4 linked regions of the Homo sapiens genome follow. The protein of the gene in region 3 interacts with the protein of the main gene of each other region in a pairwise test. Each region holds a gene or a part of one and is shown on either strand. Other genes may lie near its edges.

The links.
Region 1: the proteins of GRB10 (region 3) and JPH3 interact in binary tests that used the Homo sapiens proteins (3 or more experiments, as listed by UniProt).
Region 2: the proteins of GRB10 (region 3) and alpha-crystallin A2 chain interact in binary tests that used the Homo sapiens proteins (3 or more experiments, as listed by UniProt).
Region 4: the proteins of GRB10 (region 3) and GATM interact in binary tests that used the Homo sapiens proteins (3 or more experiments, as listed by UniProt).

The regions. Positions count from the first base shown.
Region 1 is NC_000016.10:87,640,007-87,647,731, forward strand, and holds part of JPH3 (junctophilin-3), read left to right. Parts: intron 1-4,251; coding exon 4,252-5,029; intron 5,030-7,725. UniProt on the Homo sapiens protein: Junctophilins contribute to the formation of junctional membrane complexes (JMCs) which link the plasma membrane with the endoplasmic or sarcoplasmic reticulum in excitable cells.
Region 2 is NC_000021.9:6,494,161-6,502,660, reverse strand, and holds the start of alpha-crystallin A2 chain, read right to left. Parts: upstream 3,459-8,500; 5' UTR 2,888-3,458; intron 1,642-2,887; 5' UTR 1,467-1,641; intron 1-1,466. Other genes in the region: splicing factor U2AF 35 kDa subunit-like protein, read left to right, coding at 3,489-3,532, 6,581-6,668. UniProt on the Homo sapiens protein: Contributes to the transparency and refractive index of the lens. In its oxidized form (absence of intramolecular disulfide bond), acts as a chaperone, preventing aggregation of various proteins under a wide range of stress conditions.
Region 3 is NC_000007.14:50,772,656-50,780,380, forward strand, and holds part of GRB10 (growth factor receptor-bound protein 10), read right to left. Parts: intron 2,506-7,725; exon of another isoform or gene 1-2,505.
Region 4 is NC_000015.10:45,361,252-45,368,976, forward strand, and holds part of GATM (glycine amidinotransferase, mitochondrial isoform 1 precursor), read right to left. Parts: intron 7,010-7,725; coding exon 6,819-7,009; intron 5,258-6,818; coding exon 5,120-5,257; intron 4,960-5,119; coding exon 4,795-4,959; intron 3,610-4,794; coding exon 3,546-3,609; intron 2,766-3,545; coding exon 2,649-2,765; intron 971-2,648; coding exon 858-970; 3' UTR 1-857. UniProt on the Homo sapiens protein: Transamidinase that catalyzes the transfer of the amidino group of L-arginine onto the amino moiety of acceptor metabolites such as glycine, beta-alanine, gamma-aminobutyric acid (GABA) and taurine yielding the corresponding guanidine derivatives.

The sequences.
Region 1 (7,725 bases), on a different chromosome or scaffold from region 3:
AGGGTCATCCTCCACTTTGCGGGGGCAGCCCACCTTCCTGGAGTTCCAGCTGAGGGGGGGCCCAATTTAACAAGCACTTTGGGAGGTTGAGGTGGGCGGATCATGAGGTCCAGAGATTGAGACCATCCTGGCCAACATGGTGAAACCCTGTCTCTACTAAAAACAGAAAAAAATTAGCTGGGTGTGGTGGTGCATGCCTGTAGTCCCAGCTACTCAGGAGGCTGAGGCAGGAGAATCGATTGAACCTGGGAGGCAAAGGTTACAGTGAGCTGAGATCGCGCTACTGCACTCTAGCCTGGCGACAGAGCAAGACTCCATCTCAAAAAAAAAAGGGTTGTCCGGTTACCTGTGCATGCCAGGTAATCGACAAATGCTTTTTATTTTTATTTATGTATTTGTTTAGAGACAGAGTCTTGCTCTGTCGCCCAGGCTGGAGTGCAGTGGCATGATCTGTGCTCACTGTAACCTCCACCTCCCAGGTTCAAGTGATCCTCCTGCCTCAGCCTCTTGAGTACCTGGGATTACAGGCACCCATCACCATGCCTAGCTAGTTTTTTTGTATTTTTAGTAGAGACAGGATTTCACTATGTTGGCCAGCGTGGTCTCTAACTCCTGACTTCAGGTGATCTGCTCGCCTCGGCCTCCCAAAGTGCTGGGATTACAAGCATGAGCCACCCCACCCAGCCAACAAACGCTTTTTAAATATAAGTATGTCCCATGCAGCGTGTCCCCTAAAGAACGATGTGTTGTTCATCTGAAACTCAGATGTTACCAGGCGTCCTGTGTTTGATGTGACAACCCTGTCCACAGCCCTGGCACGGAAGGGGCAGTCGCTGAGGGTGCAGTCTTGGGGTGAGGGTCCCTGTGATGGCAGCCTGTGTCCAGCTTGGACTGGCCATGGGAAGGCCACTGTGTGGGCGGGTCTGGCCTTGGTAAAGGGCCACCCCCTGAGACCCACCGAGCCTAGTTCCAGTTTCCTCCTCACAACCCCAGCCTGGAAGGGCGTTCGGGTGTGGAGCAAGCCACAGGGTTTCCCCCCAGTGTGGTTCGCATTGGGGTGCCGGGTGGTTCCGAGTCAGCTGCCCCCTCTGCCTCCTCCCCGTGCCCATCACAACTGCCCCCAGTGCTGGGACCTCTGGGCAAGAGGCTGAGGCTGACACTCTGGAAAGGTGTGCAGTGGTGTTGTGGGGTCCCTGGGGTCCGGTCCACATACATCCCTGCTTGCCCGGCTCTTGGCATCCTGTAGGAGAAGGTGCCACAGCCTAGTGGGTGGGAGGGCAGGAGCCCCATCACTGGAGTCGGAGGTTGCTTTTGATGTTGATGGCAGTGAGGTTGCTTCTGATGTTGATGGCAGTGAGGTTGTTTCCGACGTTGATGGCAGTGGACTTGCCTCCAGGTTAGCTGCCTCCCCAAGCAGCTTTGGGGGTACAGAATGACCGACCAGTGTGGGATCCCAAACATCCTATCCCCTTGCCTGAAAGTGGGACGAGGCTGAAGCTGACCTCTCGCTGAGACCACCTCATTCGGCCCCGTCCTCTGCTGCCACGTCCTTCTTCCTGGTACCCCCCTTCTCCAGCCCCAAATAAGTCACGTTCACAGGATCCCCAGCTCAGGCTCTGCTCCTGGAGAAGCTGCCCTCAGAGGCTGCGTTGCCGATTCCTTTTTCAACGGAGAGGCTGCAGCGTGTGGCAGGTGCCACCATCTCTTGGAGTGAGGCAGCCTCAGGGGCTCTGTCCGGGGCTGCAGCCTGATTGGTGATCTTTGCACGCCCCTTCTCTGCCCTGGCTGGGCCATATGCCACATGGGGCGTGAGGGGCCTGCAACACAAGTCCCTCTGGGGGCTCGTGATGTGGTTGAGCTGGAAGATACATTCTGGAACATCTAAGACCCCAGCCACTGTCCTGAGTCTGGATGCCGCGGGTGCCGGGCATGGGGGCTCTGGGCCCGGGCCCTGGGGTGCTTGGAGGTGCTGTGGAGGAGGGGTGGGGCTGGCTTGGAGCCCATGGGATTCGATTGGAGGGTGGGAGTGTGAGAGAGGAGAGAGCGTGAACAGAGCCTTGGACAGAAAAGCCTGGAAGGATCAGGACCCTTTGGGGGGTGGCGGGTGAAGGTGGCGGGGTGTGGGGATACCCTGGGGACGGACAGGTCACTTGAGGCTACAGGACTTTGAATTCCACACTTAGTTTGGATCCCACCCTCTGGTGTGGGGCGTGTGAGTGGAGGGGGCCTGGCTAGGGAAAGGGGGGGGGCAGTGGGGAGTGGAGGGCTGCTTCGCTCCGAGAGATGGCGGCACCTGCCACCCGCTGCAGCCTCTCCGTTTAAAAAGTGACTGGCAGAACAGGAGCAGCTGCTGCCAGCTCCTGTCCATTTTGTCCTCTGAAAAGAGAGGTCGGGGTGGCCAGGTCCTCATTTTTCAGGAGACAGAAGAGAGCTGAATTTTTATGTCAAATCTCTTGGTTTTGAGTTGTTAGCAGGTAATTCCAATGTTTTATGAAAACAGCGGTGGGACGAATAAAACCTACGTATCAGTAAGTCTCGGCCTCCAGGCCTCTGGTCTGCAGCCTGTGCCACCGTGAGTTGGAAGAGTGGTGGACGGACTCTGTTCTCCCCGCAAAAGCCCTTTCCAGGGTGGCACATCCACGCCGTTAGTGCCCGGCTGCAGGGAGAAGCTCAAATGACAAATGAGGCTTGAGGTTTGCCGCGTTGGGCGTCGTGCTGAGGCCCAGCCGTCCTCACGGTGACCTTTGGCATGAGGAGTCCTGGTTCCACTCTACAGACGAGGACACTGAGGGCCAGCGGGGCCCAGAAACTTCCCTGAGTCACAGCTCACAGAGCAAGACATGGGCCCAGGTCTGCTGACCGGGTTTCCTTTTTATTTTATTGTGGTAAGAGAAATACAGAATGTACCACGTTAGCTACTTTTAAGTATACAATTCAGTGGTATTAATTACCTTCACGGTGTTAGGTAGCTGTCATCACTGTTTACCTCCAAGGCTTTCCCATCATCCTACTGCAAAACTCTGTCCCTATTCAACACTGACCCCACAACCCTCCCCAGCCCCTGCACCCACCGCGCTTTCTGCATCTCTGAGCGTGACTACTCTAAGGACCCCGTGTACATGGAATCATCCGATATGTGGCCTTTTGTGCCCAGCTCAGTTCACTCTGTGTAATGTCTTCAGCGTTCATCCACATTGCAGCCTGTGTGAGAATGTTCTACCTTTTCAAGGCTGAATGATGTTCCATCGTATGGACGGACCGCATGGCGTCTGTCCATTTACCAGGTGATGGACTTGTGGGTTGCCTTTCCCTTTCCAGCCATGGAAACAGTGCTGCTGAGAACCCAGGTGCACAGGCAGCTGCTGCAGTCCCCACCCTCCCTTCTTCTGGGGATATCAGGTCTGCTGATTTTATGTCTGAAGGTCATGGGCCACTGTCCCTTCCCTATGCCCTTGAATCTCTTCCATGGTGTGTCCACTGTGTGGTCTTCCTGGATACCTCCAGCAATGGGGAGCTCACTGTCTCCCAGAGCAGCCCATTCAGGGCTTAGTGTGTAGCCCACACCTGTGTCCCTGTAGCTGCCACTCATTAGCCTCCTAACCCAGGACGCGTTTCCTTGTGCCCTTGGCAGGGGCTCCGTATTCACTCTGGGTTCTGTGGTCCTCACTCTGCACCACAGACTCTGATGCCTCCCTTCTCCCTCCCCGATTTCCAAGAGAGAACAAGATCTAGCCATGAGAAGCAGGATGGAGGTGTCTTCAAAAACAGCCACTGGTGATAGAAGTTGTAGGAAGGTACCATGGTCTGTCTGCCTCCACGCAAACCTCACCAGGTTTCATCAAGATAGCACACCAGGAGTGGTGTGGCTCATGACTGTAATCACAGCACTTCTGGAGGCTGAGGCAGGATCACTTGAGCCCATGAGTTAGAAACCAGCCTGGCCAACATAATGAGACTGCCATCTCTACAAATAATTTACAAAGTAGTGGAGCATGGTGGTGCACGCCTGTAGTCCCAGCTGCGCAGGAGGCTGAGGCAGGAGGATCGCCTGAGCCCAGGGGTTCCTGGCTGTCGTGAGCTGTGATGGTCTCACTGCACTCCAGCCTGGGCAACACAGCGAGAACCTGTCTCAAAAAACACAAAACAACAGGAAGCTCAGACAGGACTGTGGCTGCTTCAACCCTGTCCGTGGCCAGGCTGTGCCCCCTCCTCTGTCGCTGGGCACTCACCCCTCTCTCATTTTCTCCCCAGGGACCTACCAGGGCCAGTGGGTCGGTGGCATGCGCCAGGGCTACGGCGTCCGGCAGAGCGTCCCGTATGGCATGGCCGCGGTCATCCGCTCACCCCTGAGGACGTCCATCAACTCCCTGCGCAGCGAGCACACCAACGGCACGGCGCTGCATCCCGACGCCTCTCCGGCGGTGGCCGGCAGCCCGGCCGTGTCCCGCGGGGGCTTCGTGCTCGTGGCCCACAGTGACTCCGAGATCCTCAAGAGCAAGAAGAAGGGGCTGTTTCGGCGCTCGCTGCTGAGTGGGCTGAAGCTGCGCAAGTCGGAGTCCAAGAGCAGCCTGGCCAGCCAACGCAGCAAGCAGAGCTCCTTTCGCAGCGAGGCGGGCATGAGCACCGTCAGCTCCACGGCCAGCGACATCCACTCCACCATCAGCCTGGGCGAGGCTGAGGCCGAGCTGGCGGTCATCGAGGACGACATCGACGCCACCACCACCGAGACCTACGTGGGCGAGTGGAAGAACGACAAACGCTCCGGCTTCGGCGTGAGCCAGCGCTCGGACGGGCTCAAGTACGAGGGCGAGTGGGCCAGCAACCGGCGCCATGGCTACGGCTGCATGACCTTCCCGGACGGCACCAAGGAGGAGGGCAAGTACAAGCAGAACATCCTCGTCGGCGGCAAGCGCAAGAACCTCATCCCCCTGCGGGCCAGCAAGATCCGCGAGAAGGTGGACCGCGCCGTTGAGGCCGCTGAGCGGGCCGCCACCATCGCCAAGCAGAAGGCTGAGATCGCGGCTTCCAGGTAGGAGGGCGAGGGGGCGGGGGGCCCTTCTTGGTGCCCAGAAGGTGTTTGTGAGCCCAGTCTGTTCAGTCCTGCTGTCGCTCAAGGCCTTGGGCTAGGCCCAGTTTGAGGCCTACACTGGTGTTTCTCAAACTATGCCCCCATGGAACCCTAGGGTTCCCTGGAGGTTCTCAGAGGTGACTGTGGTCAGGATTGGTGCAGAGGAATGGTTGATTTGTGGGGGTGTAGAGGCCTACAGCCTCCTTAAACTGAGCAGTGTCTCTTTGTTCTATATGCTGATGTTTAGTGTAAAATATTGGTGAATAAAGAAGGTGGTCTGTTCCGTTAGTACAATGCATTGGAGTGCTGCTGTGCTAGCTAGTAGGGGTGACACCACCAGGTGGGGGTGGCAGGTCCAGCACTGCAGGGCTGTGGGAGGTGGCTAGGAGCTGCCTCAGCTACCCAGACCTGCGATCTAGATTCTTCCGGGACCCTGGGAGATGGCAGCAGTTGGGAGGCCAATTCCGAGTGCCTGGCAAGGGGCTCATGCAGGCCTGGTGCTTTGGGGGCAGCCGCTGTTCTGAATCGGCTGCATGACTTACGGAATTTGGGGTCCAGTGGGGCCTCTAGGCCCTAAGGAATGGGTCCAGAGGTGACTGTGGGTGGGATCGACGTGGCTTTTGGGTACCTTTAGGGGTGGGTGCAGGATGGGGCCTTTAGGGCTGGAGGAAGGTGCCCAGGGTCTGGCTCCTGTGGAGGTGAGTGTGTGAGCCAGGGGCTGGTCCCCGCCAAGCTGTGGCTGGCAGGAGCCACCTGCTGCAGGTTGGAGGAAGTTCCCCTGTGGAAAGCCACGGGCCCCACAGGTAGGCATTTGGGTTCTAAAGTAACTGAGGTTACTAAAGGGCTTTGTCAAGACTTGGGAAGGCATTTCAGAAAACCCAGAGCCTTTGCTTTCCACCGGCATTTGCTTTCCTGGGCCAGACGAGGGCCCTTGGGGTAGCCCGGAGAGTCTTGGGGCAGGGATCTGGGAGCTGCGGGGGAGTCCATGGGCTGCCCAGGCAGGAGGCTTCCCAGGGCACGTTCCCCTGCGTCTTTCTGGATGGCTTTGTGTTCTCAGCCAGGGGCAGACCTGGAGTTCCTCCAGGAAAGCTCCCAGCCTGGGTGCGGCTCAGCCCTTCCCGACCTGTCGCTAATTAAAGTTCAGCCCATTTGGTTCTGATTTTCAGTGACCTTTGATCTATAGTGAAAAACAAAAATGGTGGCTGCGGTTTGTTGGCAGAATATGTTGCTCGCGACTTCTATTGTTTTAGAGGGAATCAAGATCGATTCCAAGAAGCTGAAAGAAACATGGAATTACTACCTGACACCGAGGTCCAAACTCGCTGTTTGCCCCTCCCTGCTCCCTCAGAAATGTTCAGGCAGGGAAATAAACAGCAGCCCACGTGTGACTACTCATCTGGGGTTTTAAGAACAAATTAGAATCAGTAGTTATTTTTTCCATCATAAATGTAATACTTGTTCCACAGGAAAATAAATAACACTGAGAAGGGAGAAAGCAGCATTAGCTCTGGTCTGATGGATCGGCCGAGCGCTCTCCTTGGCATTTTGGTGAATTTCTTTCCTCTGTGTTTTGTTTTTCGACCCTTTCTATTTTGTATAGTTGCTTTTTTGACCCTAGTGGACAAGAAGCAGTTTTGGGGGCTGGGGGACAGCGGCGTCACGGAATTGAGGAAGCTCGTGGCAGCTTCCGTGTGACCTGCAGATTGGTTCATGAGTTCATTGGTTCATGAGTTCTCAGCAGCTCGAGGACTTAGTGGACAGTGCCCTGCAGGACTGAGCTTATTTCACAGCCTTGGCACTGGGTGGATGTCTGTAGGACTGGGGGGACCTGCGACCTGAGATAGTTTTCAGACGAATTCCCCTAGACATTAAGAGAAGCGGGTTCCCATTAAGGAGCCCAGGTGGCATGGACAGGGCTGGGGGCAGCACAGGTGAGGAGCTGCTCCAAGGCAGGTTGTCAGCCTCTCTGGACCTCAACTTCTAATCTCTGAAGGCCTGTGAAGCTTAGGTGGTAACAGCTCCCTTCCTGGGGCATCCAACCTCTTCCTGGGGTTTTGGGGGGCCCAGGGGCTCTGTGGAGCATTGCTGGGGGAGATGCCTACGTATAAGTGGGCATCATGCTGGGGTGAAAGCCCAGGGGCTGGGCCGGGAGGGCGAGACCTGAGACCCATGCAAAGGAGCCGGGGCCAGGGTGGGGTGGGCACGGCTCCTACTGAGTCCCCAGCCCTTGGGACGCTGGCCAGCCAGCCTTGGCATGGCCAGCATCCCTGTGTCTCCTGGGGAGGCATTTTACTTAATGGACAGAAGGACAGACAGACGGGTGGAGGGAGTGAGAGGGAAAGGATGGGTTTGCAGGCTGGTGCAGCTGTGAAACTGACGGAGCCCACCCCCTGCCAACCCCCCGACAGCCTTTGAGGCCCAGCAGCCCATGCTCCCTGGCAGGTTGCGGCTTGCCTTCTGCACTGGCGGAGTCCGAGCTGACTCCGTCCCTTCGCCCGAGCGGGCGTCGCGGGGAGGGAGGTGGTTCCTGCTTCCGCATGCGCACAACTGGGGTCTTGGATCGTAGCTCCTTTGTGAGAAAGGGACTGGCTCACCCGCCATGTCCTGCTGTCCACACACACGGCTCTGCACACCACTCACGGCCTCCTCACCGCTGT
Region 2 (8,500 bases), on a different chromosome or scaffold from region 3:
TACTGACAGAAGGTGGCACCATAAGCATTGTCCACGAATCCAGCTGCCGTCTCTGCAGATGCATGTCTGCTCTAGAAGCACAAGTGTCCATAATTTAGATTTTCCTTCTGAATGACCAAAAATGCCTAAGGGGAGGAATTTTGGTCACTAAAGAAGAAAATGGCCAAGCGCGGTGACTCACGCCTGTAATCCCAGCACTTTGGAAGGCCGAGGCAGGGGGATCACGAGGTCAGGAGTTCAAGATCAGCTTGGCCAAGATGGTGAAACCCCAACTCTACTAAAAATACAAAAAATTAGCAGGGCATGGTGGCAGGCGCCTCTAATCCCAGCTACTTAGAAGGCTGAGGCAGAGAACTGCCTGAACTGAGGAGGCAGAGGTTGCAGTGAGCCGAGATCATGCCACTGCACTCCAGCCTGGGCGACAGAGCGAGACTCTGTCTCAAAAAAAAAAAAAAAAAAAAAAAAAGAAGAAGAAGAAGAATGTTTAGATTTGTCAGTTGAACCAAGTTTCAGAATATGGCCAGTTTTAAAGATGACACTTTCTCCTTGACCAAATTTCGAATGAGAGAAAAGGCTGCAAACTGTAAAAAGACAAGCAAAACCTCAGACAGAAGTGAAAATCACAAATCTGCAGTCAACAGAATCTCTAGAGAATAAAAATGGAAACTCCTACCTTTCAGTGGAGCTTCAGTTCTAACCCTATCAAATTATTAGTGTGTAAGTCTCAATCTTCAACTAAGCTGGGAGGATTCAGATCCCAAGACTGGCCTTACCAGAGACCCCTGCCAGCCCCAGTGAGGTCGAGTAAACAACAGTCGTTTGTGCTGGTACCAAGGCTCCAACTATTGATGCCACTACTTAGTGGCAATCCCTGAAGGCCTGCTTCAGGTCCTATCTGGGTTGCCAAAATGTCAACCTCAAATAATGAAATTCAGGAAATATGATTAAGTATAGAGTTTATTTGAGCCCAAAGCTTGAGGATGGCTCCCTGGGCACATGCCCCTAGGTTGCCCTGAACATATGTTCCCATTAGCAGCAGTCACAGTGGGGTTTTAAGGAAAAGGAAGAGGCAGTCCCTAAGTTGTTAGCAAGAATTTGCATTAAAATAACAGAAGGTGCTGATTGGCTATGCATCGTTCTTAGCATCACTAATTCCATGTGAACAAGAAGATAATGGGTGAGGCAGCCTGTCAGGAGCAAAAATTCCATCAAACAATTGCCCTGGACAGTTGCTTCTATGGTGGAAGAGGCGCTGAATGAAGTCCCACACTCCTGCCTCTCTGGGCCTGATCATTCTGCACACCTCACAGAGCTCAGACTACCCTATTTTTCTTTTCTCAGGAAAAATGGGTGGATGGTACTGGTGGCCCTGCCTGGTCTGATCATCTACCCTGGTTCTAGTAACCAGATTAATTCCTTGTAATAGAGCTGTGGATTTCAGTTCAGTTCCCACGCACAGACCTTACCTCTGCTTTCTCCGACCACTTCTCCCCCACCCCAGGTACTTCACAGCTGAGAGCCTCTTGCCAGCTTCCAACTCTCCAGCAGTCTTTGTTCCCAGACCGTGTCCTGAGGCTGCACTTTCTGGACATGCCCACCTGCTGGACTGGCATCTGTCTTGTCACTTCTCTGGCCTCACCTCTGCGAAAGGAACACAAAAGTCAGGACCCCAGTTCACTCTGTCAAAAGGAAAAGAATGAGCTGAAAGCTGAGTCATGTAAGCAGCTGCCTTTCCTTTCGTTCCTAAGCAGACGGCTACAGATAGAAGGTTCAACATCCGCTTCTCTTATGTAAAGTGCTGATTTGCTGAGGAGTGAGCTGTACACAGTCGACTGTTCCCAACCTGCTTCTTTTCTCTTGCAACGTGTGGATTACCACACTGTTCCGCTTTCCCCTCCAGCCCACTTTTCCCCTTTAAATACTGAAGCCCTCAAAGTCATCTTTGGAGAAAGGCACAGACCACAGACTGTTTCTGTGATACCGTGTTTTTTTTCCTCCCAGGCATTGTCCTTAACCTTGGCAAAATAAACTTCTAAATTGATTGAGCCCTGTCTCAAGATACTTTTTGGTTTAAACCTCTGAGGCCCTACTGTTTCTAATACAGGTTTCCAGTTTGCTCATCTTTCCCAGGTAGGAAGATGCTCTGTTGCCAAGAGAAATGCAATTCTAACACGCAAATCCGCCCAAACACTAGAGCTCAGCATTCAGCTCTAGCCGAGCTAAGAGGATCCCATGGTCCTGCCCCACAGTCTGGGGCTCATCTTGTGGAGGAGGTAAGTAAAATAGGCCCTGTCTCTCTGACTTCTACCTAATCAGAGTTGATAGTTGCGTTGGAAATTAGGTAAATCGCAGGTGAGTTGATGAATGTGGGAAACCAGATGAAAATGGCTGCTTGATGGGGTTAAAACGCAGGAGAGGAATAGAACCCTTCCAACGGAATGGTTCCAGCCTTGTGACATGAGGAGACTGAAAGGGTATCCCAGAGGCAGGTCACTGGCCTTCCAGCTCCACCTGTGGGTGGCCTTGGCCAGGCAACTGCAAGAGTGCAGGGCCCCGGGGAGGTCGCACCTGGCAAGCGCTGAGGGAGGGTAAAGCGGAGAGGGGTGTGAGAAGAGAAAAACAACACAGAGCGTCCGAGCTATGTGAGGCGTGCGAGGTTAATCCGGCCCGGAGAGACAGGTCTATGCGGCTTCAGCGGTCCCCACCCATGCCTGGCAATTGTTTAAAGGCACTATTGCTCCGGACCCGCTGCCTTCACCCATGAACTTCCTTTCCTGGAATTATGATATAAAGAACAACGTACAGCCAATTAATAGCTTGTTATTTTCATGTAAATTCTTGGTGAGCTATTTAAGAACTGCCCCCCTCTTAAGCTTTATAAACCCACTTGTCACTGTTGCAAATCCTATGTTCAGGGCAACTTGAAGCTATGCTCCCGGGTTGCAATCTTCAAACTTGGCCCAAATAACCTCTCTACTTATATCAAGTTTGCCTCAGCTTTTTTTTTCTTCTAGGTCGACGGTTCCCGCCCCGCAAGGGTGCAGGGAAGGGGACGCCCGCACTTCCTAGTGCTCCCTTAGCTGGGGTCGAGCTGAGCGCCCCCCACCGAGCCCCAGGCGGCTCTGTGGAGAAGCCCCTCGGCCCCGGGTTCGGTCTGCACTGCCAGCCCCCAGTCCCCGGCGCGCAGGATCCAGCAGGGCCAGCGCCGGGCGGGCGAGAAGGCGAGAGAGCTAGGGCCGGGCGGGGAGGGCACCGGCAGGGGGCGCGGGTTCCCAGGACCGAAAAGGCGGAGCCTCCCACGCGCACTACGTGCTCCCTACGCGCATGCGTCCCGCCCACGCGCAGGCAGCACCTCGCCTGACTGGGTAGCGCTGCCACGTCGGGGCGGGGAAGAGCGTCGTCGCGTCCGGGTGACGTCTCCCGCGGGCGTCGGCAGGGTCGGCGGCGTCGGCAGCAGTGTCGACGGCAGCGGCGGCGGCGGGTGGGAAATGGCGGAGTATCTGGCCTCCATCTTCGGCACCGAGAAAGACAAGTGAGTGGGAGCCCCCCGCCGGGGGTTGGGCGCGATCGGGGCGCAGGGTGGTTGAGGCGGTGGGAGGGCGACCGGGGAGGCCCAGGCGGGCCGGCGCGGCGGTGGCGGGGGAGGGGCGCGCGGCGGGAAGGAGCGGTGGCCCTTCCGGCCCCTTGCGCGCCCTCCGGAGCCGCCGCCTCGTGGGCCGCGCGGCGGAAAAATGGAGCGGGGAGAATGAATGGGGTCTCTTTTCGGGGCGCCGCGGCCGAGCTTTCTCCGGCCTTGGGGTCCGAACTGGCTGATCGCCCGACGTCCGGGCCTCCGAGTCGCCGGCTCCCGGAAGCCGCCTCGAGCCGCGCTGAAAGTTGCCTGGAGCATCCGGGCCTTTTGGACGTGGACACGTTTGTTCCAACTTTCGGCTGTGAATGTCCTGTCGAGCAAGCTCTGGTACCAGCCTCGCCAGTATTCAGTCGCTTATCTAACTTAGGGTCCTAAGCGTTGGTGTTTTATCCACTTAGCCAGCCTCTTGCCTGTTTAAGCGACCGCTGGGCCGGCAGTAAGGAGATATGACGAGAAAAAGTATGGTGGAGACTACTGGATTAACTATCTAACCACAAGAGACGTGATCCGCTCTTAACATACAGGTGCTCCTGGATTTACCATGGGATTGCGTTCCGATAAACCCATCATGAATCGAAAATGCCTTTAATACCCCGATAAACCCATCATCTAAGTTGAAAATTTGTAAGTCGGTGACTGTTCTTGAAGACACAATTCTGATATAAGGAAAAAGATGTTTTGATTTTTTCCTTAAGGTTGCATGCCTTCCCTAATCAATCGTTAGGTTAAAAGCAAAACATTTAATTTCAGCTTTAATTGCCACCTTGGCACGTACTAATTTCCAGTGAGTTGGCTGTAGTTTAGACTAAATGGAATGTTTTCAGACGTTTGAAGGATAATTCTTACTTTGAAAACCTAAAGACTCAGCATCTGGCTTAATCTACTCTTTAGTTATCTTGGCATTCTTCAGTGCCATACAAAGTTAACATGACTTTATGTTTTCAATGATAAACCCCTAAGTTTGTCATAGATGTTTTTAATGCCACTTTTTTCAAACGCTATTTAAAATGTTTCTCTTTTCCAGGATGGAGTCTATCTTGTAAAATGTCCTCTTCACACATGGTAGAATCTCCTGTGTTGTTTGGATGAGGAGGCTATATTTCTAGCAAAATTTTAAGCCAAAATCTACCAGTTATAGTCACTCCAGAAACATTTAGTGGGGGTCAACTATAGGTCAGTTTCTGGAGACTTAAACATGGGTAAAATTTGGATATTATCCTTAAGGAACTCACGGTATGATCTTGGCGAATGAATAGACCAGCTCTATCGGAACAAGAGACTCTTCTGAGTTTAGGGTGAAGAACTAACACATGTAGGATCGGGGCATCATTAATTTCTCCTTTTCATATTTGCATGTGGCATGACTTCTGTCTTGTAAAAGTCTATCTCCCTATATTTCTGCTATAAGCAACCACATTTCAATCTATTGGGCTATACTATAAAGGTCATGGTTTTAATTCAGAAAAGTTGATTATTTAATCTAGGTTACTTGTGTTTTCTTTTCAGGGAGACGTGGGGTTTTAGCTTCCAGGGAACAGGATCAACTCCTGAAAAATGAAGCTGATGGTTCATATTAACTTTAATTATTATTTAAGCTAAGAATAAAATATAGATCTCTACCAATTAAAAAATGTTTAGCTTATTATATGTTTGAAGTTATAGATGTTTTCTAGATTCAGGGATATCCTAATAGCTTGTCTGTAGTTTAATTGTGTGGAATAATTGGATATTAATTGTTGAGGCCCAGGGCTTGCCCATTCTGAGGTAGTTTTTAAATAAGCTTTCTTTATTTTTAGATGACTTCCTAAAGATATGCTATTGTCTAATCAAGTTAAATAATCTCAAGACCTGTAAGTTTGCAAATATATATAATCACTTTCCTCTCCTGATAAATTTGGACTTTCCCATCTTTATTGCTACCTGATAATAAATCAGTGGCTAGTCAGTCTTCATGGTCCATCAGATTTCACTGAGGTTGAGGCCCTTCAATCTTAACTCTGGATTGACTGTTTAAAACATAATGGCACTTGGTTAAAAAAAAATTGAATTTTGAACAAAGTCTGTCTGGTAAGATGTCCTAATTCATCAGAGATCGGCTTCCCTCCCTGACATTGCTGGCACACAGGCATGATTGCTGGTTCCATTGGATATGGATCTGGATTGTCAGCGTATTTGAACAGTATTAAGGGAGGGTTTTGCAGTAGAGACAGAAGGTGACGTAAGGTGGTTCCTAAGGTGGGTTTGGTCAGTCCCCTAATAGTTTGTTTTCAGTGTATTGAGACCAGGAGAATTGATTTACTTCAGACCTATTTTTTGAAACTCCCTGTTGGTCTGGTGTCATGCGTTTAGAGAGACTCTGAACTTCGTTTTCTGTTTTCCTTAGATAATGATAGCACTTCATGAGCACCATATGTGAAGCACACATACGTTCTGTCTGACTCTCAGAACAGTGCCACATTGGCATTGTCATCATTTACAGATGACATCTGAGAGCTAGGGTGACTTGCCCAAGCCCAAGCAGCTGGTAGCAGAGTTGGGATCTTAACCCTCACCACACCGGTCTTTTCAAGAGAGAACTTGGTCGTGGAGAACTGGAGAACAGATACTGCCTAAGTTACATTTAGTTTTAGACTAATTTAATACTCCATTTAAGAAACAAACAGAACAGCTGTGCAGTTAGGAAAGTGGAGGGGATTTGAATGAGGAGGAGGCGGGTTAGAGTTAGAACCGTCTTTGCTGAACAAGTAGTGTGTTTGCAGAAAGGGAAGTTGAAGTTACGTTGTCCTAAAATACAGCAAGGAAGAGGAGGTGCTTAATACCACGGAAAAAAGTCTGTGTCATGTTTCTGTGAGGTTAAAAGTAATTTGATAGTGTATGTCATGCTGCTGACATATTCCATGTGTTTGATATCTTCCCAGCAAAATAATCAGCTCTCATTTTCCCTTACAGAGTCAACTGTTCATTTTATTTCAAAATTGGAGCATGTCGTCATGGAGACAGGTGCTCTCGGTTGCACAATAAACCGACGTTTAGCCAGGTTTGTTTGCCTTTTTTTCATGTAAATTATAAAAACTTCATGTTCTTTTCAAAGACAGTTAATTTCTACATATTAAGCAAGTCATTTTTTCTCTCGTAGTTGTATTTTCCATTTGTGTTCATAAGTGTGTTCTTTTATTTAAATAATAGTGAGGCAGGTGATCGACTTCCAGTGGAAGGTCTGAGACCACCACTCCTTGTTTTTATCATTAGAGAAACTTTAAAAATCAGTTTTTGATGTTTGTGTGTTGGCTGTGCCTGATATTTGCTGCCCTGCCATCTTCCCTACCCCCTCTGATAGACATGGGTCCAGAGGGGGTGGCCGTGCCAGCCTTGGGTTAGCCTCCTCCAGGCACCAGTGGACACGGAGTGGGCTTTCTGCTCTTTGCTGTCTCCAGACAGTAGAGGTGATGGAGCCATCTTCCAAGTTAGCGTGATTGTCACCAGGCCCATCATGCTGCTCGAGCTTCTCTGGCTGCGTCCTCACTTTCACATCCCTAGCTGAGGAAACAGCGAGTCGCATCACGTCATGGAAACATGAAAAATTAAGCTGAAAGGTAGAAAATGGGCCGTAAATTGCTCTTAGCGGGTCTGTTTGGTTAATTGAGGAGTGCCTGTTATCTTGGGCTTAGATCCGCTCTGAGTTCAGTTCAATCAAAAGTTGTGAGTTTTGATAGTTTTATTTTTGGTTAGTTGAAGAAAAGGCAAAGGTTGGTACACTATAAAGGATCACTTACGGATTAAAGGGAGAAGGCACCTCTAATCGGAGCAGAAAACTTGTGCCCACGTTGATGAGAACATTTGAAATTTGAAAATCGATGCCCAAGTCTTTCCAGATGGAGGGCTGGGGAACTCCTTCCAACCCACCCTTGAAGTCTAAATGTGCAGCCTCTGAGCTGTTGAGTAGCTATTATGCGTGGTCCCTGGGAGCTGCCAGGCTCTGCCTTTGAGCTCACATCTGTCTGTATACGTTTTCCTGTAAGCATTTAAGAAAATCTACCACTTTGTGTAAGTGAGCTGGGAGAAGGAAACATGGGTTTTTTCCGGTTGAAGCCCATGGACGACCCCACAGCACACAGTGTTTTTAGAAGGGAAGAGGATGATGGCTTTTCCCTCCATTATGCTAATTACCAAGTGGTTAGTATAATAGCAGTCTGTCTTTTGATAGCTCTGAACATGAGTTTCTTTTTACAAATTTCAAAATCTTGGAGAACTAGCTTTACATTTTCTGTGTATTGCAATTGTTTTTTCTTTAATGTTTTGATTTATGAACCGAATCTCCCCTAACTAAACCAGTGGCCATGGATTGTGGTATAACCAAGCATCTTAAGTGACCACCCAGTTCTTTGATTTTGGGGGGTGTCCCAAGTGTTGGGCTGAGAGAAATCAACTGTTCCCTATTCTAAAAGTTTTCTTTAATCTGGCTGGAGGCACTTTCTTTATGTTTTTCTGGATCATAGATTACCTGAGAATGTGAAATGTGAAGTTAATTTAGGCATTCCAGGTCAGTGCTGGGGAGAGCCCATTGGAGCTCGATGGGGTCAGTAGTATGTGTCAGCTTAAGCATCCTAGTTTGATGCGTGGGTTTGTTTTGGTTGGTTTTAGGCAATCCTAGCCACCCTTGGCTTTCCCATTAGACTGCATTGCCTCTTTACGTTAAGCTTCCTTCATTAAATAGCCACTGCCAGAATACCTGAGTGAGACCAACTGAATTTTACTGTTGAATAATTGGGCTCAGTTTAGCTTTTCATCAGGGTTGTCATGGTACGGTCATTTCAGTTCAAAGCTGAGTCAAGTCAGCTTTGGGAAGCCTCCCAGGCCTGAGTTCAGTTG
Region 3 (7,725 bases):
AAGAAAACATATGCAAAAATCTTTATATGGACATTGGATTTGACAATGACTACTCAGATATGACACCAACAGCACAGGCAACAAAAGAATAAAATAAATGAACTTCATCAAAAATTAAAAATTTTTGTGCGTCATAGGACACTACGAAGACAGTGAAAAGACAGCCTGCAGAAAAGGACAAAACAGTTGCGTATCACATAACTGATAAGAGTATTAATATCTAGAATATATAAATTCCTACAACTGAGTAACAAAAAGCAAATCAAAACCACAATGAGCAATCATCTGATGCCTTGTATTAGTCCGTTTTCATGCTGCTGATAAAGACATATCAGAGAACTGGGCAATTTACAAAAGAAAGAAGTTTAATGGACTCATATTTCCACGTGGCTGAGGAGGCCTCAAAATCATGACAGAAGGTGAAAGGCATGTCTCACATGGTGGCAGACAAGAGAAGAGAACTTGTGCAGAGAAACTCCCCTTTATAAAACCATCAGATCTCATGAGACTTATTCACTATCACTAGAATAGCATGGGAAAGACCCAACCCCGTGATTCAATTACCTCCCACCAGGTCCCTCCCATAGCATGTGGAAATTATGGGAGCTACAATTCAAGATGAGATTTGGGACACAGCCAAACGATGTAACACCTATTAGGACAGCTATAAGGAAAGAAAGGGGAAGGGGAAGGGGAAGAAAGGCAAGGGAAGAGGAAGCGGAATGGGAAGGGAAGGGGAAGGGAAGGGGAAGGGGAAGGGGACGGGGAAGGGAAGGGGAAGGGGAGAAAGGGGAAGGGAGGGGAGGGGAAGGCAGGGGAGGGGAAGGCAGGGGAGGGGAGGGGAGGGGAGGGGAGAGGAGAGGAGAGGAGAGGACAGGAAACGAAAAATGCCAAGTGTTGGCAAGAATGTGGAGAAACTGAAACCCTTGTGCATTATTATTGGGAATGTAAAATGGTGCAGCTGCTCTAGAAAACAGTTTGGCAGTTCCTCAAAAAGCTAAGCATAGAATTACCATATAATGAAGCAATTATAATCTAGACATATATACAAAAACATGGAAAGCAAGTACTCAAAGATAGTTATACACCAATGTTTACAGAAGCATTATTCACAATACCCAAAAGGTAGAAACATAAATGTCCATCAACAGTTGAATAAACAAAAAGTAGTATATACATACAAGGGAATTTATTTGTTTGTTTATTTATTTATTTATTTTGAGACGAAGTCTCGCTCTATCACCCAGGCTGGAGTGCAGTGGCGTGATCTCAGCTCACTGCAAGCTCCGCCTCCCGGGTTCATGCCATTCTCCTGCCTCAACCTCCCAAGCAGCTGGGACTACACATACAAGGGAATATTATTCAGCCATAAAAAGGAATGAAGTACTAATGCATGCTACAACATAGATTAACCATGAAAACATTATGCTAAGTGAAAGAAGACACTCACAAAAACCACAGACGATTCTATTCACATGAAATGTCCTGGACAGGGAAATCTATGCAGACAGAAAGTAGAGTTCCTTAGGGTTGGGAAAGCAGGGGGAGCAATGGGATGGCAGGGAGTGGGGGTATGATAGCTAAAGGGTGCAGGGTCTCTTTTTGTTCTAAAATTGACTATGGTGGCGGTTGCACATAGCTGTGAATATATTAATTGAACACTATATACAATGTATGTGTGTGTGTTTATTCATTTCTGCAGTTATAACAAAATACTTGAGACTGGATAACTTATAAAGAACAAAATCTATTTCTCACAGTTCTAGAAGCTGGGAAGTTCAAGATCAAGATGCCAGCACTTGGTGTCTGGTGAGGGCCTTCTTGCTGTGCCCTCACATGGCAGAATGCAGAAGTGCAAAAAGGGGATCCTAGCTAGTTCTCTCCAGCCCTTTGATGGGGGCAAGAATCCATTCATGGGACTGGAGCCCTCATGACCTTATCACTTCCCAAAAGCCATACCTCTTAATAGAGTTGCGTTGGGGAAGTGATAAGGCCATAAGGAGACACAAACATTCAAACCATGGCATTCCACCCCAAGTCCCCCAAATTTATGTCTTTCTCACATACAAAATACATTCATTCCATCCCAATAGCCCCAATGTCTTATCTCAGGCCAGGATCAATTCAAAAGTCTGAAGTCTAAAATTTCATCTAAATCAGACATGTGAGACTCAAAGATGTGTTTCAACCTGAGGCAAAGTACTTCAGACTTCAGCAGTGGCTCACTCCTGTAATCTCAGCACTGTCGGAGGTTGAGGCGGCCGGACTTCTTGAGCCCAGGAGGTCGAGACCAGCCTGGGCAACATGGCAAAACCCCATCTCTAATACCAAAAACAAAACAAAACAAAAAAAAAAACTAGCTGGGCGTGATGGCACACGCCTGTAGTCCCAGCTACTCAGCAGGCTGAAGTGGGAAGATAGCTTGAGCCCAGGAGGCAGAGGTTGCAGTGAGCCGAGATCACACCACTGTACTCCAGCCTGAATGACACAGTGAGATCCTGTCTCCAAAAAAAAAAAACAAAAAAAAACAGTGGAACAGACAAAGAACAGACATTCCCATTACAAAAGGGAGAAATAGGAAAGAAAAAAGAGGTAACATTTCCCAACCAAATCCAAAACCAAACAGGACAAACATTAAATCAATGGTAAGGCTGGAGAATAAATCTTTGGTTCCATGTCCTGCCTTCCAGACACAATGGGGCAGGAGTTGGGTTCCCAAGGACCTGGGCAGCCCTGCAGCCAACTGCTGGGCACAGCCCTCATAGCAGCTCTCACAGGTTGCAGTTGGGTACCTGCAGCTCTCCCAGGCTGGCACTACACACGGGTAACTCTACAGTTACAGGCTCTCGAGGGCAGCCCCACCCCCACAGCTCCATTAGGCATTGTCCTTGTGGGAGCTCGCTAGTGTGCCCCCAGCCTCAAGACTCTGCTGGACATTGCCCTAGTGGGGGCTCTTTTTGGCACTCCTGCCCCATGGCTCTATTAGGCATTATCCTAGCAGGGAGTCTCTGCAGCAGACCTATCCTGCAGCAATTCTCTGTCTGAGCCCAAGACTCTCTGAGGCATCCTTTCAAATCTAGGTGAAGGTAGCCATGCATCCACAGCTCTTGCACTCTGCATACTTGCAGACTTAGCGCCATGTGGATGCCACCTAGGCTTATGCCCTGTGCCTTCCACAGCAATGGAACTAGCTGCACTTGAGCCCCCTTGAGCTACAGCTGGGATATCCAAGGAGGGCTGCACTGTAATGCAGAGAGCAGAGAAGTGATGCCAGGCAGTGAATGCTGAGGTCCTGCAGACGCCCAAGGCCTCTCCTTTGACATAAGTTCTGTTCCCTGGGCCTTGGTACTCTGGGCCTCTGATGGGAGGGGCAGCACTGATAATCTCTGAAATGCCTTCAGGATCATTCTTCCATTATCTTGATGAATAGCATCTGGCTTCCTTCTATCCATACTAATCTCCTTATCAAAAGGTCACTTGGCCACACCCTTAGTGTTTTCTCCCAAACATGTTTTTACAACCTGGGCAAGCTAAAAATTTTCCATATCCTTAAATTCTGCTTCCTTTTCTTTTTTGGAAACAGGGTCTCATTCTGTCACGCAGGCTAGAGCGCAGCAGCAGAATCATGGCTCACTGTAGCCTTGACCTCCCAGACTCAAGTGATCTTCCCACTTCAGTCCCCTTGAGTAGCTGGGGCTAAGTGCACACCACCACACTCCGCTAATTTTTTTTTTTTTTTACTTTTAGTAGAGATAAGGTCTCATTATATTGCCCAGGCTGGTCTTGAACTCCTGAGCTTAAGCAATCCTCTCACCTTGGCCTCTCAAAGTGCTGGGATTACAGGCATGAGCCATAGTGCCCAGCCTCTGCTTCCCTTTGGATTATAAATTCCATTTTCAATTCATTTCTCTCACATTTTACTGTAAGCAATTAAGAGAAGTCATGCAGCATACTGAATACTATGCTCACGGATTTCTTCCACCAAATATCCTAGGTTGTCACTCTTAAATTCTGCCTTCCCCAAAGCCCTAGAGTATGGGCACAATTCAGCCAAGTTCTTTGCGCCTTTGTAGCAAGGACTGTCTTTCCTCCAGTTTCCAATAAGATATTCATTTCCATATACGACCACAGCAGAACGGGCTTTACTGTCTATAATACTACCAGCATTCTGATCACAGCCACTTAGAAGTTTCTAAGAAGACACTGGTTATCTCTACGGCTCTCCTCTTCTTCTGGGCCCTCACCAGAATCATTCTTAATGCTCTGTTCACAGAAATTTAGGCTTTTTCTAGCAAACACTTCCAAACTGTTCCATCCTCTACCCATTACCCAATTCCACTTTTCTTTTAAGTATTTGCTATAACAACACCCACTCTCAGTATCAATTTCTGTCTGTGCTGCTATAACAAAATCCACAGGTTAGGTAATTTATAAATAATAGAAATTTACTTCTCATGGTTCTGGAAGAGAGGAAGTCCAAGATCAAGGCACTGGGGTTCAGTGTCTGGTGAGGGCCTCTCTCTGCTTCCAAGATGGTGCCTTGTTGCCACACCCTCCAGAGGGGAACAAATGCTGTATCCTCATATGGTGGAAGAGCAGAAGAGAGCAAACCCATTCCCCCTCAGGCCCTTTTAAAAGGGCCCTAATCCCATCTATGTCCACTCTTATGACTTAAACACCTCCTAAAGGCCCCACCTCTTAATAACATCACGTTGGCCATTAGGTTTCAACACATGAATTTTGGGTGATACATTCAGACCACAGCAATCTGTATACACACACACACACACACACACACACACACCATTGCACATATCTGTAAATATACTAATTATAATTGAATTATATACTTCAAATTTAAATGAGTAAATTGTATGGTATGTGAATTATACCTCAATACAGCTTTTTTTTTTAAGAGAGGACTGTATGAAAAAACTAGCCCATAAAGATACATGCACACCTATGTTTATTGCAGCACTACTTACAAAAGCAAAGACATGGAACCAACCCAAATGCCCATTAATGATAGACTGGATAAAGAAAATGTGGTACATATACACCGTGGAATACTATGCAGCCACAAAAAGGAATGAGATCATGTCCTTTGCAGGGACATGGATGAAGCTGGAAGCCATCATCCTCAACAAACTAACACAGGAACAGAAAACCAAACACTGCATGTTCTCACTCATAAGTGGGAGCTAAACAATGAGAGCACATGGACACAGGGAGGGGAATAACACACACCAGGGCCTGTCAGGGAGGGGAGAGGGACTGAGGGGAGGGAAAACATCAGGACAAATAGTTAATGCTTGGGGGGCTTAAAATCTAGATGACAGGTTGATAGATGTAGCAAACCACCATGGTACACGTATACCTATGTAGCAAACCTGCACGTTCTACACATGTATCCCGGAACTAAAGAAAGAAAAAACTAGCCTAATGAAATAATCAGCACAAGAGGGGTTCTAACTCCACCCCGACCCCCCAAAATTTGGAACCACCATAGTCTAGCCATCTTCCTCTTAAAGTGTCATAATACATTGTGGCACACAAAATTTTCTGAAATGTTGTGCCATAAAGAAACCAACTTTATCTAATCCAAAGTTTCCTCACTTATTTGGCAATAAATTATTAGCTCCTGTAGTATCTAAAACCTTCAGGAAGCATTAAGTTGCCCAACATCACCACCAGCCTAGGAAGACTGTTAATGAAAGATGACAAAGGAATGGGTCCAAAGTCCCATGGAGCCCATCAATGCATTTACTGATCAACTAGGGCAGGCACAAATACAAACATTCAAAAATGTCTTTGCTATCCAAGGAAGAACTTTGGTGGTAGAATTTTTCAAAAGGTGGCATTAAGTAGAGGTGATCCACACAGTGGAGCCTTATACACAGAACAGACTCACAGTGCAAGCAAGACAAAAGCTGCTTTAATACCACCTACCCTGACAGGGAAATAATGGGACAACCCAACCCTACCTCCAAGGGTAGGGTCGGGCTAACGCTGACAGAAACAGGCAAGGGCCCCAGCCAGAAGCCCCACTGGGACATCTTTATTGCTTCTTTCTATGGCTTGGAGGCCTTCCAGGTTCCAGGCTGTGATGCTGAGACATGAAGGCACTGAGCAAGGACCTTGGAAGAAGTGGGGTGTTAGCATGCACAAGCTCAAAGCAGATACAATTCCTACATTCTTAAAAGAAGGCAGGTGGGGCTTCCAAATCCGCTCAAGATTCAAAAGGTTTCAAACCTTTCTAAAAGTGTTCTATCATCATAAACAAAAGAGAAACCACTAAATAAAATCCACAGGAATCCAAACAAATGTCAAAGCAGGACACTGTACAAATATTTGCCCCTGGAATAAAGTATGGACACATTTAAGAATGTCATTTACAACAATGTAGGGCTAATCACTAGAAAATTCTTGGTACAAAAATTCTTAGATTAAGTAATAGCATTATTAATAATAGTTCTTACCAGGTAAAGTGTCCTCTTCAGAGAATTTCTAGAGAAAAAGACACTAAAGTGAACACAGGGGGAAATGCATTAAGACCTTACTGCACAAAGTGTGGGCCACTGACCAACTGCAAGCATAACACCTGGGAGCTGGTCAGAAACCCAAAACCTCAGGTCCCAACCAAGACCAACTAAATTAGAAGCTGCATTTTATTATCAGCCCCAGGAGATTCCCATGCATATTAAAGTTTAAGTTGTGGTATTTTCAGACATTGTTAATATTTAACTTGTATCAGAACTGAAACGTGCCAGCTCCCTTTAAGAAAATAAATAAGCAAAATATATTAACATCACTATTTTATTGTTCAGTCAACACAGGCCATCCCTCTACTCACCCTCCCTTCCTACACAGATTTCATTATTTTCCATCTAAGTAAGGCAGGAACAGATGACGGAGACAGACTGGCTCCTCAAACACCTGTTGAGTGAATGACAGGCGGGGTCCCTTGTCAAAAGCCACCCAGAGCACTCCTTGCCATTCTCATCCCACTTGAGTGCTGAACAACTGCTCAGAATTACACAGCCATTGTTGGCAACGGCACATCACCAGTCTCAAGCCACCAGGACTACCTTGACAACACTCAGAAGCTGGCTCCCAGACACTGCACAGGAAAGGAAAAAAATTATTTGTAGGTGACTTACAGGTACCATTTACACATTTAGAATTTTCTTCCCTCACTAATATGAGATTTGAGCCTGAGGCATCTAGAGTTCAGCCCAGACTCTTCCAGCTGCCTTCAGGCAAGTCTCCACAGACCAGAAATGCCCCTGGAGAGATAGTCCTGGACCCCCTGACCGAGGAGGCAGAGAAAAAAAGGGAAGAAAGAAGCAAACGGGGCCAATAAATGCCTACTGGCCCCCCAATCCTAGTCACAGCTCAGCATTTTCTGGCCCCTTTAATTTAACCTCTGCCGGCCGTGAGAGGAACAAAGCCCATTCCACATGAAAACAGAAGAAATGTGTCTCCTGAACAAATCAGAATAAACCGTCATGGAAAGGGTTCCAGGGTTTGGGATGGGTTAGGACTTTGTGGATCATGCCCAGCCAGTGAATTCTGTGAAATATGAGAAAATATGGTCCATCACACCAGTTCTGCACGTGATGCATGGCCATGCCCACTACCAGATGTGCCAAGTTATTTAATCTGACAGAAGCAAAAGGCCCACATAAAGGCCTCTTTTGACATGTGCTCCCAGACCTCCTAGGG
Region 4 (7,725 bases), on a different chromosome or scaffold from region 3:
AAATAATTTGCACATTTGTAAACAAATCTTAGATGACCAAAGATGCAGTGTATCTATCAGATATTGAATATCAAAACTTAAGGATGGGAACTGATAGCGAAATCCAATTACACTAAACATTCCTAAATTTTTGGAAAGAGAGAAAAAGATTAAAATAATTCACTTGAAATGAGGTAAGATGTATATGAAAAGGTTTTTAGTAGCATATATCACAATGTTGAGATGAGAATATTAAAAACATTCATGGAAAATTCACTTTGATGTTTTGCATAGTCTAGGTTATTTTTTAAAAAACAAAAAATTAAAAATTACCCAAATTCCTTATTAGAAAAAGAGACAATTACCTGGTTCTACTTAGGATCTGTGTATGTTCTAAGTCTTTCTCTCCTTTAGAAAAAAAGAGATAATCTGATTCTATTTTGGATCTGTGTACATTCTAAGTCTTTCTCTCATTTAGAGAAAAACATTCTCAAGTCTATAGAAGAGGAAAAAAAATTAAGATTAGGACCAACATTTCAAGCTGCCTTTTGGAAAGAAAATTAAAAACAGAGGTAGATGGTTAATTATTAGTGGCCAAGTTACTCAGGTGACTAATTTTTTCTTGGTACACATTCACCAAAATTTTATACTTGAAGCCAAATAGTAAATAACTTTAGGAGTAGAGAGTAATACCTAGCAGAAGTTATTTTCTTTATGTCAAAGAAAAGTAATAGAAGCAAACCAGGCTTACGACCCCTGTTAAGGAGATGATTGTTTAAAGCACTACAGTTCATGCACTTTTTAAAGCAGGAGAATGAACCTTGCCCCTAAGCTTCTTAGGTGTATCTGAGGCCAGCCACAAGCTCCATCAGGCCTGTTCAGTCCAAGTAGGACTGTAAGGTGCCTCGGCGCCGGACATCGCAGGTCCAGCAATGGAAGCCTCCTCCCAGGGAATTGGCATTACGAATGTTAACTTTAATGGTAGTGATACCTGCATTGAAAGAGAGATGAGGTCAGTTAGATGGACTAACATGACGATTCTCATAGAGAAAGTAGGCCTACAGACTTGGAGGAGTCCTGTGGTTCTAATCCTTAAGGATACCCAACCCAGAATAGTATTTTCTCTTCCAATTTTATTTTCACCAACTATATTTCATCTGCTAATATAAAATCTTCTCCAAAAAGTCAACAGAGAACTCTGAAGTTTTGTTCTATTGACTATTCACAAGTCAATAGACTGAGCAGATGTACCTACCAAATGTTCAAAATGGTCAAGTACTAAAATCTCAAGGCCTTTTAGAATTATACATTAACTACTTTGTCAGACTGTTTCTAATTTTACCATGTTAATTTAGTAGGCAAAGCAAAATTTAGCTGACCTAAAAAGCTGACTTTACATATTCACATATAAGGAGAGTTTATCTGATACAGATTAACTTCACCAGGCCACCATAAGGAAACAATGGAACAGAGCTGGTGTTTTAATATCTGGGTTTGTATGGTTATACAGGTACCAAAGCAAATCCAACAATCAGTTTAATCTGGTACCATCTGTAATGACAAGGCTATGATGTGCATGGCCTATTTAACCAATGGTATTTAGGAAGAATCTGTTGTGTTAGATATAGTGGGGTTTTAAAAAGAAAATCTATTATTCTTCCTCAAGGAGCTAATTATTTTGAGAGGAGGATAGGCTACAAAGTCACTAAAGGGTCCATTGGTATAGCCAGGGAGAGGAAGGTGGCATGAGCCATTCAGAAAGACTTTCCTAGTCGCGCATGGTAGCTCACACCCATAATCCCAATGCTATGGGAGGCATAGGTGGATGGATCACTTGAGGTCAGGAGTTCGAGACCAGCCTGGCCAAGCCCCTCTCTACTAAAAATACAAAATTAGCCAGGCATGGTGGTGTATGCTTGTAATCCCAGCTACTCAGGAGGCTGCGGCAGGAGAATCGCTTGAACCCAGAAAGTGTAGGTTGCAGTGAGCCGAGGTCACGCCACTACACTACAGCCTGGGCGACACAGCTCTGTCTCAAAATACACACACACACCCCTTTATAATAGCTCATATGAAAATCCTTTCCCTTCAACATTTTTCTCAATAATACTAGAATCATTGGTCTAAATTTTGAATATCAGGATAAGTAAACTACTTAAGTAAAACCTGGTCCTGCTCTTCAGTTCAAAACTGAATGATTTACTGACACACTTTCTTGCATTTCGCTACTTTGTTAACTATGCTTATCACACATAAAAGTCACTTCTGCATCCGTACCCTTTTGAGTCCTTTGAAATATGTGATGACAGGACACTTTTAAAGGACCCACAATGATTTCTTATTTGAAGAAGGGCTGAACAAGCTATCTGCTCACCTGCAAAGGGGTGGTTTTCTGCACATGGGCACCAAAACGTTGGCTAAGTCATATAAGATTTATAAACTTATTGTTAAGGGGATGTCTCAGGAGCTCAGGATGCATCTCCAACTTGTTGGGGCTACGTGTGTTGAAAATAAAAATACTGACTTTCTGTGAAATAATAACTTGGTGCCTCTAAAAGGAATCAAAATTGAATTAGACAAACCATTTATCAAACCTAGCATGTCATTTCTTTAGTTCTTCTCATTTAACGTTTTCATGTATGACAACATGTTTCATTTGTTGTACATACCCAGCTTTTCAAACATCTTTTGAATTGGAACTTCATTGGCATCCACCATAACACGTTTTTCATCTAGCATTAAGACATTCATGGAAAGCCATTTGGATGACATCCAGAGTGGATGATCTAAAAACAGCAACAACTGTTAAACCATGTCCGCTATCATTTTTGTTTAAAGCAAGGATTTACAAGTGAAGAATATTAAAGTGACAGCTCAGTTCTTTCAGTAGTTCACTTTCCATGTGAACATTTATTTTAATCTTAAAACAATTTATCTATAAATGGTATGAATCAATCTGTACTCATTATACATTTGAATTTCACCCTGTTTTCTTTTAAAAGTCATATCTTGGCTGGGCATGGTATAATCCTAGCACTTTGGGAGGCTGAGGCAGGAGGATTCCTTGAGCCTAGGAGTTTGAGACTATTGCCCAGAGATGGTGCCTCACTGGGGAACACAGCAAGACATCATCTCTACAAATAAAAAAAAATAACTTGCTGGGCATAGTGGCCTGCATTTGTAGTCCCAGCTACTTAGGAAGCTGGAGTGGAAAGATCACTTGAGCCCAGGAGTCTTGAGGCTGCAGTGAGCTGTGACTGCACAACTGCACTCAAGCCTGGGTGACAAAGCAAGACACTGTCTCAAAAAAAAAAAAAAAGTCATATCTTGCTTTACGTGATGTTGTTTTATTCTGTCTTCTCCTTACTTCATTTTCTATGGATGAAAAAGTTGCAAACACAAGTCCCAGCCTTGTTCTGATGCTCACAGTCCCAAGCACCACTTCACACCTTACTGAGGAAACACATTCTCTAAGCTGCTAACATTTGGGCTGCTCTCTATAGGAGAAAGATCCTTGGTCACTAAAGTAATTATTTTAGTCTAACAGTGTATGAAAGTAAACATACCGTCTGGGATGATTGGTGTTGGAGGAGTAATGATAGTCCATCCTGCTTTCTTGAAAAGATCAATCTGTAAGACCAAAAAAAACCCCCAAAACCGTTAAATCTACATATACTATTATTATTATTAGTCTCTAATAGCCCTTATCAGTAATAATTCTCTTTGAGAAGCTGTCTTCTCAGCTTCCAAAAGAAAGAAATTAAAATTTCTAAACATTTGGGTGATTTTGTCTGAATCCTAATTAAAAATGTACATAAAATCCCCAGATTAAAGTTAAAAAGTAACAGAAATGTTACAGCTTTTAAAGATAGTCTTAACTTTTCTCAGGTTTCAGAGACTTAAAAAACCAAAGATACTGTCCTTAAGAAATTCTCATTTTAAAAATTGAAAAATTTCCTATTTAGTTACAAGAAAACAAAAATGTGACTACATCAAACCCACAGTCCTTCTACTTCTTGCCCATCATTTTGTATCTAGGACCATGGTATAAAGACAGTTGTTAGCTATGCATTCTCAAAGAACCATATTGTCCTTAGTGACCTTTTACAACTTAGCCGTCCCTGTGTTCACATACCCACTTACTATACGAATAAATGATAATAAAATGAAATGAATAAGTAGTCATGGTCATCGGGTTTAAAAATAAAAAACAGAAATGAACAGTGACACAGTATAACAGTGGTTTTTAAAAGTTGTACTGCAGCCTTGCAAGTAACAGAAAATCACTCATCACCTAACTGGAAGTAGGAGGCTATGGACAGAAAGTAGGAGGCTGCAGGTGAAGGGGATAGACCAGCTGCAGTGCAGTGGCTTCACTTTTCCCTACAGAGCAGGGTTGGCCAAAGGGAGGCTACCCCACTGTAGAGGGAATACAACCACTGCCCAGTGGCATTGCCCTGGCCATGCAAGGATGATCTTGTCCAAAATTCGCTGCTGTGGAACCACTGTTGCAAGTTATAACACCATCGTTTGATAAAAATACACACATATGCACAAACTTGAGGCTCTGACAACAGCAAGTGGCCAAAGTCTGATGATCCCATACTAATTATTGTGTCAACTATGTATATTTCTGCATGGTGGACATCTTGTAATAAGCCATAAGGAATCCAATGTTTGATCATAATAATGTTGAGTACTGCTGAATCTGTCATTTAGAACCATTAGGAACCATGGAAGTGCTTAAAATAAAAGTGGCAATTATTTTAGTTACTAGATTCTGTTGCTTTTCCAGAGTCCCAAGAAATCTCTTACCTGGTGACATGGTCGGTCAGGGTTGGAAAGCACAATACCAGGTCCAATGATGTTGAAGGTAGCATCAATATGCATGGGATTGGGATCTTTAAAGGAGATGATATGCACTCTGTAGTCTGGAGCAAGATGCCTACGCATCCATTCAATGCCTAGGTAGTTTGTAACCTGAAAACAAAAGAAAGACATACGATCGATAAATATTTGGTTCTATGTCTAGAAAACTAAAAATATTCAAGGTGAAAAAAATTTAGGATGAAAATATTTTAATTTGGAAGTAAAGAATACAATAATATAGTGTGAAATTTCAGAGGCAGCCTGCGTTCACCTGGCTTCTCTGTGCAAAAATATCTCTTCCAGCTCGAATGAAGTCAGCAGCATCAAAGCATGGCTCAAACTCAGTTGTCACAAATTTTCCCTGAGCAGCCAATTTGTGTCTGTCTTCTACAGAGTGGATGGGATAATCCTAATTGGAACAAGAATGAACACACACAATGCACTGGATCATGAGAAAATTATTCATAAGGCATACAGTACTAAGAAAATTAGTTTAACATCATTTCCCAAAATATTACTACTCAGTTCTAGACTAAAACATGCCTGGGAAAGAAGCGGGTCCATGATAAATAAACCAAAACAACAATAAAACAAGAAACTAGCATTATAGTAATTTCCTGATACAACAGTCCTCCTTTACCCATGATTTCACTTTCCATGGTTTCAGTTACCTTCAGTCAACTGTCGTCCCAAAACATTAAGATATTTTGAGAGAAACAGAGAGACCACATTCACCTAACTTTTAGTAAAGTATATTTATATAATTGTTCCATTTTATTATTCATTATTGTTGTTAGGCTCTTACTGTGCCTAATTTGTAAATTAAACTTTATCATAGGTATGTATATATGTACAGGAAAAAACAAAATATATAGAGTTCAGTATCAGCATCCACTGAGAGTCTGGAACATATCCCCTGAGGATGAAGGGGCACTATGTACTTAGAAAAAAATGGTACACACCAGGTGAGATGGCTCATGCCTGTAATCCCAGCACTTTGGGAGGCCAAGGCAGGTGGATCACCTGAGGTCAGGAGTTCGAGACCAGCCTGGCCAACATGGTGAAACCCCGTTTCTACTAAAAATACAAAAATTCGTCAGGCATGGTGGCATGCACCTGTAATCCCAGCTACCCAGGAGGCTGAGGCAGGAGAATTGCTGGAACCCGGGAGGCAGAGGCTGCAGTGAGCCGAGATCACGCCACTGCACTCCAGTCTGGGTGACAGAGCAAGACTCCATCTCAAAAAAAAAAAAAAAGTGATACAGAGGCAGTAACTGATTCTGAGAATATTCCATGAACCGTACGGAAAGTAAACAGGATGAAGTCATTCTGTTCTTTTAGAAAAGGAATTTGGTCCCGAGCTTAACTCATACCATAAAACGAGATGCCATGTTTCCCCTGCCAAATTTGATTGGGAGTGGCAAAACTAATTCATTATTTATTTCTGTCTTTAAACCCAGAAGCTATTTTGATTTTTAAATTTTTTTCTATAAAAGATCAAATGGTAACTGATTTAATAAGGGACATACATTTCATTTTACTGTGAATTTGAACTGTAGATCAGGTTCTTTTTCTAGAAGAAGAAAGTGAACTTCAGTCTAGTGACTTTTCTGGTTCCACTAATGAACAGTGGTACACCTGTAGGCAAGTTTTTCCCCATCTAATGGAATGATACTACAGTATGATTAGGGTTGTTGTGAAAAACAAACAGGATTGAGGATGTAAATAAAGGGTTTAACCCAGGACCCAGAACAAGGTAAGCACCAAAAAGTGTTAGCCATTATTATTATTATCATAGGATCATTTACTCTTATCATATTCATCATAAAATAATCACTTTTTAAAAATAAGATGATGTTTTCGGTTTCTAAAATGCATAATATATACAAGGTATCAGAGAATCTCTATCTTACTCTTTGTGGATCATTTAGAAAAGTTAGTAATAAGCTAGCCTATAATTAGGGACTCACCTGGTTATAAAGCTCATCAGCCATTGTGGGCTTAGGAGCTGTTGTCCACTTGGCGCCACGGTGGAAGTAGTCTTTGATAATTGACCTGTACGCTCGGTACTCAAAGAAGCGTGAACGCCATGCCATGGGAGCCTCGATAATCTCATTGCCCACAACTATCAGGATGTCTCGAGGCATTGCACTGTATAAACCTGTCAGACCAAAAAATTCCATGACAACTTCAGTAGTGTTAATTTCCAAGACAAAAAAGGTCTATATAGGGCCAGGCACAGTGGCTCATGCCTGTAATCCCACCACTTTGGGAGGCCAAGACGGGCGGATCACTTGATCCTCTTCAAGAGCAGCCTGGCCAACATGGTCAAGCCCCATCTCTACTAAAAGAATACGAAAACAATTAGCCAGGCATGGTGGCACGTGCCTGTAATCCTAGCTACTCGGGAGACTGAGGCAGGAGAATCACTTGAACCAAGAGGCAAAGGCTGCAGTGAGCCGAGATTGTGCCACCACACTCCAGCCTGGGCGACAGAGTGAGACTCTGTCTCAAACAAACAAACAAAAAATGTCTATATAATATTACCTCTTTTTTTGGTTAAAAAAATTGCTAGAAATACATGTGTGTATATATATATGAAAATAGCAAAAAATTCGAATAACACATACTAGATTGTTAACATGAATTGTGTGGTGGGGGGGAAGCCCAGAAAAAAAAGAAAAGAAAAAAAAGTGAAGGAATAAAGTCCTTGTACAAAGAGATCTTGAACCACCAAGCTTTCACCATTTGTAAGCTCCTTTCTTGCTATACAGAAACACAGCTCTTAAAGGACTATCGGTATCACAAGATAAAAATTGAGCCAAGGATCAATCTAAAACTAGAAATTAGAACAGTGACCTAAGGCACAAGAACAGT